2 separate regions of the Homo sapiens genome follow, and region 2 is reported to be linked to region 1. Evidence: microRNA targets listed by miRTarBase, many of them from high-throughput screens and not tested one by one. Region 1 holds a microRNA gene; the other region holds the end of a gene's coding sequence.
Evidence for each region. The annotated mature microRNA hsa-miR-6758-3p reads ACUCAUUCUCCUCUGUCCAG and lies in region 1 at 2,767-2,786, shown strand. An mRNA with a match to its seed (bases 2 to 7 or 8) in the 3' UTR can be bound and repressed. Matches are read on the target gene's strand: a 7mer-m8 pairs with bases 2 to 8, a 7mer-A1 pairs with bases 2 to 7 and ends in A, and an 8mer does both.

Region 1 (4,000 bases):
AATCCTGATTCCTCCCCTAGACTAAGGGTATATAGCCAAGTGTGTTCAAACAAAATTTTTTTCTAGAGACAGGGTCTCACTCTGTCACCCAGGCTGGAGTGCAGTGGCACAATCACAGCTCACCGCACTCTCAAACTCTCGGGCTCAAGTTATCCTTTTGCTTCAGCCTTCTGCGTAGTTGGGACTACAGGCGTGTACTATCATGCCTGGCTGATTAAAAAAAAATTGACTAGGCATGGTGACTCACGCCTGTAATCCCAGCAGTTTGGGAGGCCAAGGCAGGCGGATCATGAGGTCAATAGACCGAGACCATCCTGGCCAACGTGGTGAAACCCCATCTCTACTAAAAATACAAAAATTAGCCAGGCGTGGTGGCACCGACCTGTAGTCCCAGCTACTCAGGAGGCTGAGGCAGGAGAATCGCTTGAACCTGGAGGTGGGGAGGTTGCAGTGAGCTGAGATCGTGCCACTGCACTCCAGCCCGGGCAGCTGAGCAAGACTCCAGCTCAAAAAAATTTTTTTTTGGTTGGGCATGCTGGTTTACACCTGTAATCCCAATGCTTTGGGAGGCCAAGGCTGGAGGATTGCTTGAGCCTTGGAGTTTAAGACCAGCCTGGGCAACAGAGTGACACCCTACCTTAAAAAAAAAAAAGAAAATTTTTTTTTTCTTTTTTGCACTTCCTCAGCTGGCCATGGTGGTTCATGCCTGTAATTCCAGCACTTTGGGAGGCTGAGGCAGGAGGATCGCTGGAAGCCAGGAGTTTGAGAGTAGCCTGGGCAACAAAGCAAGACCCTGTCTGTATTTAAAAAAAGAAAAAATTGGTTGGGCACGGTGGCTTATGCCTGTAATTCCAACTTCCAACACTTTGGGAGGCTGAGGCGGGAGAATTGCTTGACCCCAGGAGTTTGAGACCAGGGTGGGCAACTTGGTGAAACCCATCTCTACTAAAAATACAAAAATTAACCAGGTGTGGTGGCACGTGCCTGTAGTGCCAGCTACTCAGGAGGCTGAGGTGGAAGGATCACTTAAGCCTGGGAGGTTGAGGCTGCAGTGAGCCATGATGTGCCACTGTACTCCAGCCTGGGTGACAGTGAGACCCTGATATGGACAAGATTAGCACATCCTCTGCACAAGAATGACATGCAAACTTGTGAAGTGTTCCATATTTTTAAAAATTAAAAAAAAAAAAATTTTTTTTAGGGACAGGATTTTGCTGTGTTGCCCAGGATGGTCATGAACTCCTGCCCTCAAGTGATCCTCCTGCGTCAGCCTTCGGAGTAGCTGGGATTACAGGCGCAAGCCACTGCCCCTGGCTGTGTGTTAAAAATCTAGTTAAGGCTGGGCAGGGTGGCTCACAACTGTAGTCTCAGCGCTTTTGGAGGCTGAGGTGGGCAGATTGCTTGAGCTCAGGAGTTCAAGACCAGCCTGGGCAATGTGGCAAAACCCTGTTTCTACAAAAATTACAGTCTGGCATGGTGGTGTGCACCTGTGGTCCCAGCTACTGGGGAGGTTGAGGTAGGAGGATTGCTTGAGCCCAGGAGGTTTAGGCTGCAGTGAGCTGTGATTATGATTGCACCACTGCACTCTAGTCTGGGCAACAGAGCAAGACTCTGTCTCCAAAAAAAAAGTTATATATTGCCAAATTGTGCTCCAAAAAGGTTATATGTGTTTATCCTTATGCTAACCATATATGAGACTTTCCTAAATCAGCCCTCTTTCTCCGTTATCTCAGCTGGAGAAGCGACTGGAGGAGTGGTTGGGGAGGACATTGCCTGGCAGTGACTGGACACCCAATGCCCAGTTTATCACCCGTTCTTGGCTTCGGGATGGCCTCAAGCCACGCTGCATAACCCGAGACCTCAAATGGGGAACCCCTGTACCCTTAGAAGGTTTTGAAGACAAGGTAAAAACCCTTTTTTATTCATATCATTCAGCCTTAGTGTTGAAACCCTGGGCTAGCAGAGTAGACTGCTGATTATGTCTTGTTTCAGTTTGAGACTTTGGATTGGTCCCTAACATGTTTACCTCCTTCTGACCTCCAGGTATTCTATGTCTGGTTTGATGCCACTATTGGCTATCTGTCCATCACAGCCAACTACACAGACCAGTGGGAGAGATGGTGGAAGAACCCAGAGCAAGTGAGCAGTTCTTGGTTAGGCTGTGCATGGGGAGGGTAGGCGGTAGGGTGTGGGTGTTAGGGTTGGGTGTCTGGTCTTCCTTGGGCCTTTGAAGGAGGTCTCAGGAAATCTCTCCTAACCACATTCCCCTAGGTGGACCTGTATCAGTTCATGGCCAAAGACAATGTTCCTTTCCATAGCTTAGTCTTTCCTTGCTCAGCCCTAGGAGCTGAGGATAACTATACCTTGGTCAGCCACCTCATTGCTACAGGTAAGTACCCTGGAAGACTACTGATGGGGTGTTCATAGGAAATGAGGGGTGAGGCAGTACTTGGAAAAAGATCTTGGAGAGCTGCTATCTTGAGTTAGGAGTTGAGCTGAAATAGGAAATAATTAAAATGAGAACTCAACCTAGAGAAACGAACAAGAACCTGAAGAAAGCAAAAGTCTAAAGCTAAAACTCTTTAGTAGATATAAGCAAAGAGAAAAAAGGGCCAGAATGGATAGGAAGGGACTCCCAAAATCTGAGCATACCAGCCCCTTAAGGAGAAATGTTGCTAGACACCCATAGTTGAGGTTAGAAAGAGGAAAGAAGGAAGAGTTAGTGGGCTAGAGAGGGGAAGGATGTGATGTGAGCAGATGGTTCTCACTCATTCTCCTCTGTCCAGAGTACCTGAACTATGAGGATGGGAAATTCTCTAAGAGCCGCGGTGTGGGAGTGTTTGGGGACATGGCCCAGGACACGGGGATCCCTGCTGACATCTGGCGCTTCTATCTGCTGTACATTCGGCCTGAGGGCCAGGACAGTGCTTTCTCCTGGACGGACCTGCTGCTGAAGAATAATTCTGAGCTGCTTAACAACCTGGGCAACTTCATCAACAGGTAGGACTTGGTAAGGGGTCAGAGTTAGCAGTGAGCTGGGGTGGGGCTCATTTTCCCTCAGGAGATGGGAATGTGGAGAGAACTAGAAAATGGGCAGGAGGCTGTGAGGACACTGTGGAAAGTTGATTTCTATTAATTGGGATCTGTTCCTAGCACATACTAGGCTATGTGTGCTTGATGGAACAGTTAGCTGTAGAGATGTGATTTAGCAAAGTTGGTTATAAAGTGGGTTTTTGTAAATTGTTTCCTTATTACTGTTCTTTGTAGAATTGAAGATGTATTCTCTCCCAGCAAAATAGTTCACCTGCAGATCATTGAAAAGTTTGGCTGAAGAAAGGGGTTATTTTGGTGTGGGGGTAGGAGGCTTCTGTGGGCTGGGCATGGTGGCTTACATTTGTAATCCCAGCACTTTGGGAGGCTGAGGCAGGAGGATCACTTGAGGCCGGGAGTTCAAGACTTGCCTGACCAACATAATGAATCTCCCATCTCTACAAAAAGAATCAGCCAGGCGTGGTGGCGCACACCTGTAGTCCCAGCCACTCAGGATGCTGAGGCGGGATGGTCTCTTGAACTTGGGAGATTGAGGCTGCAGTGGAGCAGTACTCGTACCCCTACACTCCAGCCTTGGCAAAAGAGGGAGATCCTGTCTCAAAAAAAAAAAAAAAAAAAGGCTTCTGCTATACTCTTCAGAGTTCAGAGTTTTTGTTACCTTAGGCTCACATTCTATCATTGGTGCCTATCTCAGCTCTTCTGCAATCTAAAGCAGTATTCTCCAGAATTTAGGATTCTTTAGTCACACTCTCTGAGCCCTGGACCCTTATAGGTCAGTCCTGCTACTCACTTTCAGCTTTGGTAATTAACCACATTTAATAAATAGTCCTTACCTACAGGAGTTCGAGACCAGCCTGGCCAACCTGGTGAAACCCCGTCTCCACTAAAAATACAAAAAGTAGCCGGGCGTGGTGGCGCACATCTGTAATCCCAGCTACTCAAGAGGTTG
Region 2 (4,000 bases), not on the chromosome of region 1:
TCCCCTGCCTCTGCCCCTACTTTCTGCCCCATGCTATTGATCCCTGGGGCTGGGGACAAGTCCTTTCTTCCTTCTCCCTGGTGAGGGCTCTGGGGAAAAATCCATTGCTCATGCCTGGTTTCTTCTGCTTCCCTAGGGGCCGTTCTCCTGACTGGTACAACAAAGTCTTTGGACACCTGTGTGCCATGGAAGTGGCAAAGATCCGGGACTCCTTCCCCACCCTGCAGGCAGCGGGCCCTGAGACAAAGCTGTGAGCCTTGGGCTGGTCCCAGGGTGGCACCACCCAGGCCCCCTGGGCACCAAGGGAGCGAGGGGGAATAAGAGCAGGGCAGCCCCCTGGGTGCCGCTGTCAGGAGCAGAGCCAGGCCCAGGTGGCTCCAGCTGCCTGTCCTGTCCCCTTTCCTAAAGCTCCTCTGCACATAGAGGGGAGAAAAAGAGAATTTAGGCAACTCCACTCCCCCTTCACCCCCAACCCTGTATTCTACTCTCCCGAAAAGAGAAGAGAATCGCATGAGTAGCAAGACTGCTGCCACCAGCCACCTGCTTGTGAGGCCGCCACTTGGCATGAAGCCTCCACAGCTCCCCGCCTGCAGGGGCAAAGAGGTCGACAGCAATGTGTGATCCCAGCTCTCTGCCAGACTGAGAGGGCAAGCCGTCTTGTTTGCTGCAAGGATGCTTTTGAGGTTGGACAGGAGGTTCTGGTCCTGCCTTTGGGGCCAACGCTGGCTCTGAAGTGTCTTTTTCAGAGGAATTGGACTGGAGTGAATGGGCACAGGGGTGGAGCGCAGGGCAGCCCCAGTCACCACGAGCTGTTTCATTTGTGTAAATACGATGCTGAATTTTATGAGGCTGAGTTAAGAGTGGGCACTGACGGGCCCCTAATATGTGACATGACGATTTGGCATAGATAGGGATGTGAGAGTGGAGTACCTTCCTTTCTCAAGTCTCGAGATGCCAGTGAAACCAGTATTCCCTGACTTGGGTTTCACACTTTATCGACCACCCCATGGGGTCCTGTGTAGCCTTTGGCCACGCACTGACACTGCCCAGGCCAAGCAAAAGCAGAGTGTGGTTAAGAGACAAGGGTCTATGTCATCATCCCTTTTGCTTATGGTAGTGGGCTAACATAACAGCCCCTTTCTCAAGCAGAGACCTGGCCCCTGGGCCAGCCAGATGGAAGGGCCTATCTTAGCCAGCTGGAGCTTAAGCCAAACCTGTTCTGTCCCACTGGCCAGCCATCTTTGCTCACATGGAAATTCAAATGCCATTCAAAGGCCACTGGTGCTTTATTTTTCTATCTGCTGAGTAAACTGAAATGAGATGGGTCCCAACCACCACTGTAATTTTCAAGCCTATTTTATTTGTACCTGTAAATACTGTACAGCTAATATATATATATATATATATATATGTGTGTGTGTGTGTGTGTGTATATGTGTTTATAGAGATACACACACATATATATGTGTGTATATATATACACATACATATATATACACACACGCATTTGCACAGACACACACATATATCAATTCTCATGAGTGTATTATAATCTCTGGTGGGGGCAAGTGTCTGGAAGGCCTGAGGGGCACTTCAGATGAGAATGGAGAGGTAGGGAGCCAGGTGCAGCAGGATCCCTCAAATCAATAAAGCATTACCAGAGATGCACTTTAACTGTGTGGCTGTCTTTGCTGACAATGGGCTAGGGACTGGGGACTGGGGTTGTGACTGAGGCTTCAGTGTTAGGGCTCAGAGCATTAAGCATTCACCCCACCCTCTGCTGAGTCCTAGCTTACCGGCAGCAGGACTTGGGTGAGTCCACAAGAGGAATGGGGAGGGCCTCAGCTCTTCTCTTTGGAGAGGGATTTGCAGCCAGACATGGTGGTGGGGGGGTGGGGCAGAGAAGGGGTGGAAAGTTAGCCGGAACTTGGGCAGAAGCTGCAAACCCCATCTCATGACCTGGCCACAAGCATGACCTCAGGCATCCTAGGGAGAGGTGAGCCTGGCTAAGCGGCCATTCCTTCCCCTTCTAAACAGCTTGAATGAAGAGTGAAGTCCCAGCCCCAGGAGGCTTAGGGGGCCCTGTGCCACCTGTAAGCCAACCTAAGAGGTCGGAGTGCCTTAAGGCAGCCTCTGGTCTGGCTCCAGTGACCAGCAAAGCCCAGGGGGCTAGAGAGACCCTCTCATCTTGACTTCCCCGAAGGAAGGGGCTTTCCTCTATCATGTTATATGGCCATAAAATTCCCAGGCTCCGAAGAGCAGCTAGAGAGAAAGTCCAGGCTTTGGACGTTTGCATCCCTGAAGTGCTGTCAGTAGCCTGGGCAGGGAAGCCCTGCTCTCTGGGTACCTCAACCTCCTCATGGGTCAAACGAGGCCAGTCATACCTCTCCACAAGCCTGTCTCAGTAAGTGTTCAGGTTGCACCACCCAAGTCTGCACTCCGACCCGGCCTGAACAGTGAGGTGCCTGTCCAGTCCCGCTGCTCTATCACCTCCTTCCATTCTCTCTTGGGTTCAGTTGTCCCTACATGCCTTGGCCTTTCTTCACTGCTGTCACCTAGGGGTCTTGGCTAGCCCTGGAAGTGAGTGAGGTAGAGCAGAGGACCCAGTCAGCCCCTTGCCTTTGGGAAAACTAAATGGAGGTGCCTTGTGTGTGAGTATGGGCTGGGAGATCACTCTGGTGGTGCTGGGCTTAAGGGACACCAGTGTGATTTTCTGGCCAGTAGTTCTTAAGGAAGGCATTGGGGCTTTCTGGCCCAAGCACTGCCCACCTTCTTTTGGAAGGAGGTTGGTGGTAGGGTACAGAGGATGGGACTCAGCACTCAGATGATGGTTGCTAGGAGATGGATAAAGAGGAGGGAGGCTCTTGGAAGGGCCAGAGAGTTCCCCCAACCTTGCAGCTCTGGACTCTGCTACCCTGACCCAGTAGCCCAGTGTCTGGCATTATGGAAGAGGTAGCTCCAAGTAGGAGAGCTTCTGTTGGGCCTTAACATCATCCTGTGTGAAGCAGAGCTCCCATCCCTCATCTCTGCCTACTCTACTGTGCCTCTAGATGTAGGAATGAGTTTCATGATGAGGTTGCCCAGGCCTCTCATTCCCACCCACAAAGCAAGCACCACCCCTGGCCATTTCTAGCCCTGAGTCTTGTACCTCTGCTCACCCCAAGTAGGCTTCATTTCCCTGGTGCCAGAGAACATGCCTTCAAATTCCCAGCCCTGCTGCCCATAGTCTACTCTTGTGCTTTCCCTCACCCACTGCCTCAAAGAAGCCAGGCTGCAGGGGAATCCTGCATAGAAATCTAACAATCTGCCTGTGAGCTTTGATTATTGTTTCCTAGTCTCCAGTGCCCTGTTGCCAGAGTGGCTGAGGGTAGATGGTGGTCAGACCCAGGCTCAAATCTAGCTATATCATTTCCTGGCTGTGTGACCTTAAGTGGCACATTTAACATTTCTGATTTCCCTCTCAGAAAATAAGGGTAAGAATCATTTATATCTTGTAAGGTTGTTGTCAAGGTTAAATGAGCCAATAGTTGTGAACGTGGTTGCAGGTTGCACAGTGCCTTGCACATAGCAGACATCAAAATATGGCAGCCCCCCGCCTGCCCCATGTCTTTCCTGCCAGTGAGACTCCATAGGGAGAACTTGGTCCTCTCATCTGGGATCTCCAGCTCCAAGATAGTGAGGAGTGGGTGGGTTCTTCTCCCATCAGGACAAAGATGAGCAGCCAGCATCTGCCCATTGTCAGTGAAGACAATGAAGAAGCATGTTGCAATGGAGACTTCATGGGGGGATGGCACCATGCAAGTGGGCCCCAGTGGTGTGGATGGAGCAGAACATACTGGTATAGGCAAAGATGATGGCAATGACAGCCAGGAGCTTTACATCTATTCGTAACAAAGCTTCCGAGTTCCTTGCTCAAGGCCTGGGGGGGTGGGGGGCAGTGATGAAAAAAAGCCCAGGGCAGTCTGGCATGGAGATAACACAGGGGATAGGGCTGGGGCTA

Region 2: the mRNA of STARD8 is a reported target of hsa-miR-6758-3p. Seed matches in the 3' UTR shown: 7mer-A1 at 1,315-1,321.

The regions. Positions count from the first base shown.
Region 1 is chr12:57,509,965-57,513,964 of GRCh38, forward strand. It overlaps MIR6758 (microRNA 6758), which reads left to right and starts at 2,724; the gene lies at 2,724-2,786. It overlaps MARS1 (methionyl-tRNA synthetase 1), which reads left to right. Exons shown (of 21, transcript NM_004990.4): 12 at 1,734-1,904; 13 at 2,044-2,139; 14 at 2,272-2,389; 15 at 2,787-3,000. It also overlaps the pseudogene LOC124903093.
Region 2 is chrX:68,724,169-68,728,168 of GRCh38, forward strand. STARD8 (StAR related lipid transfer domain containing 8) reads left to right here. Exons shown (of 15, transcript NM_001142503.3): 15 at 137-1,668. The coding sequence ends at 254. Among named protein-coding and RNA genes, the nearest start is that of STARD8, 79 kb to the left of the region's middle.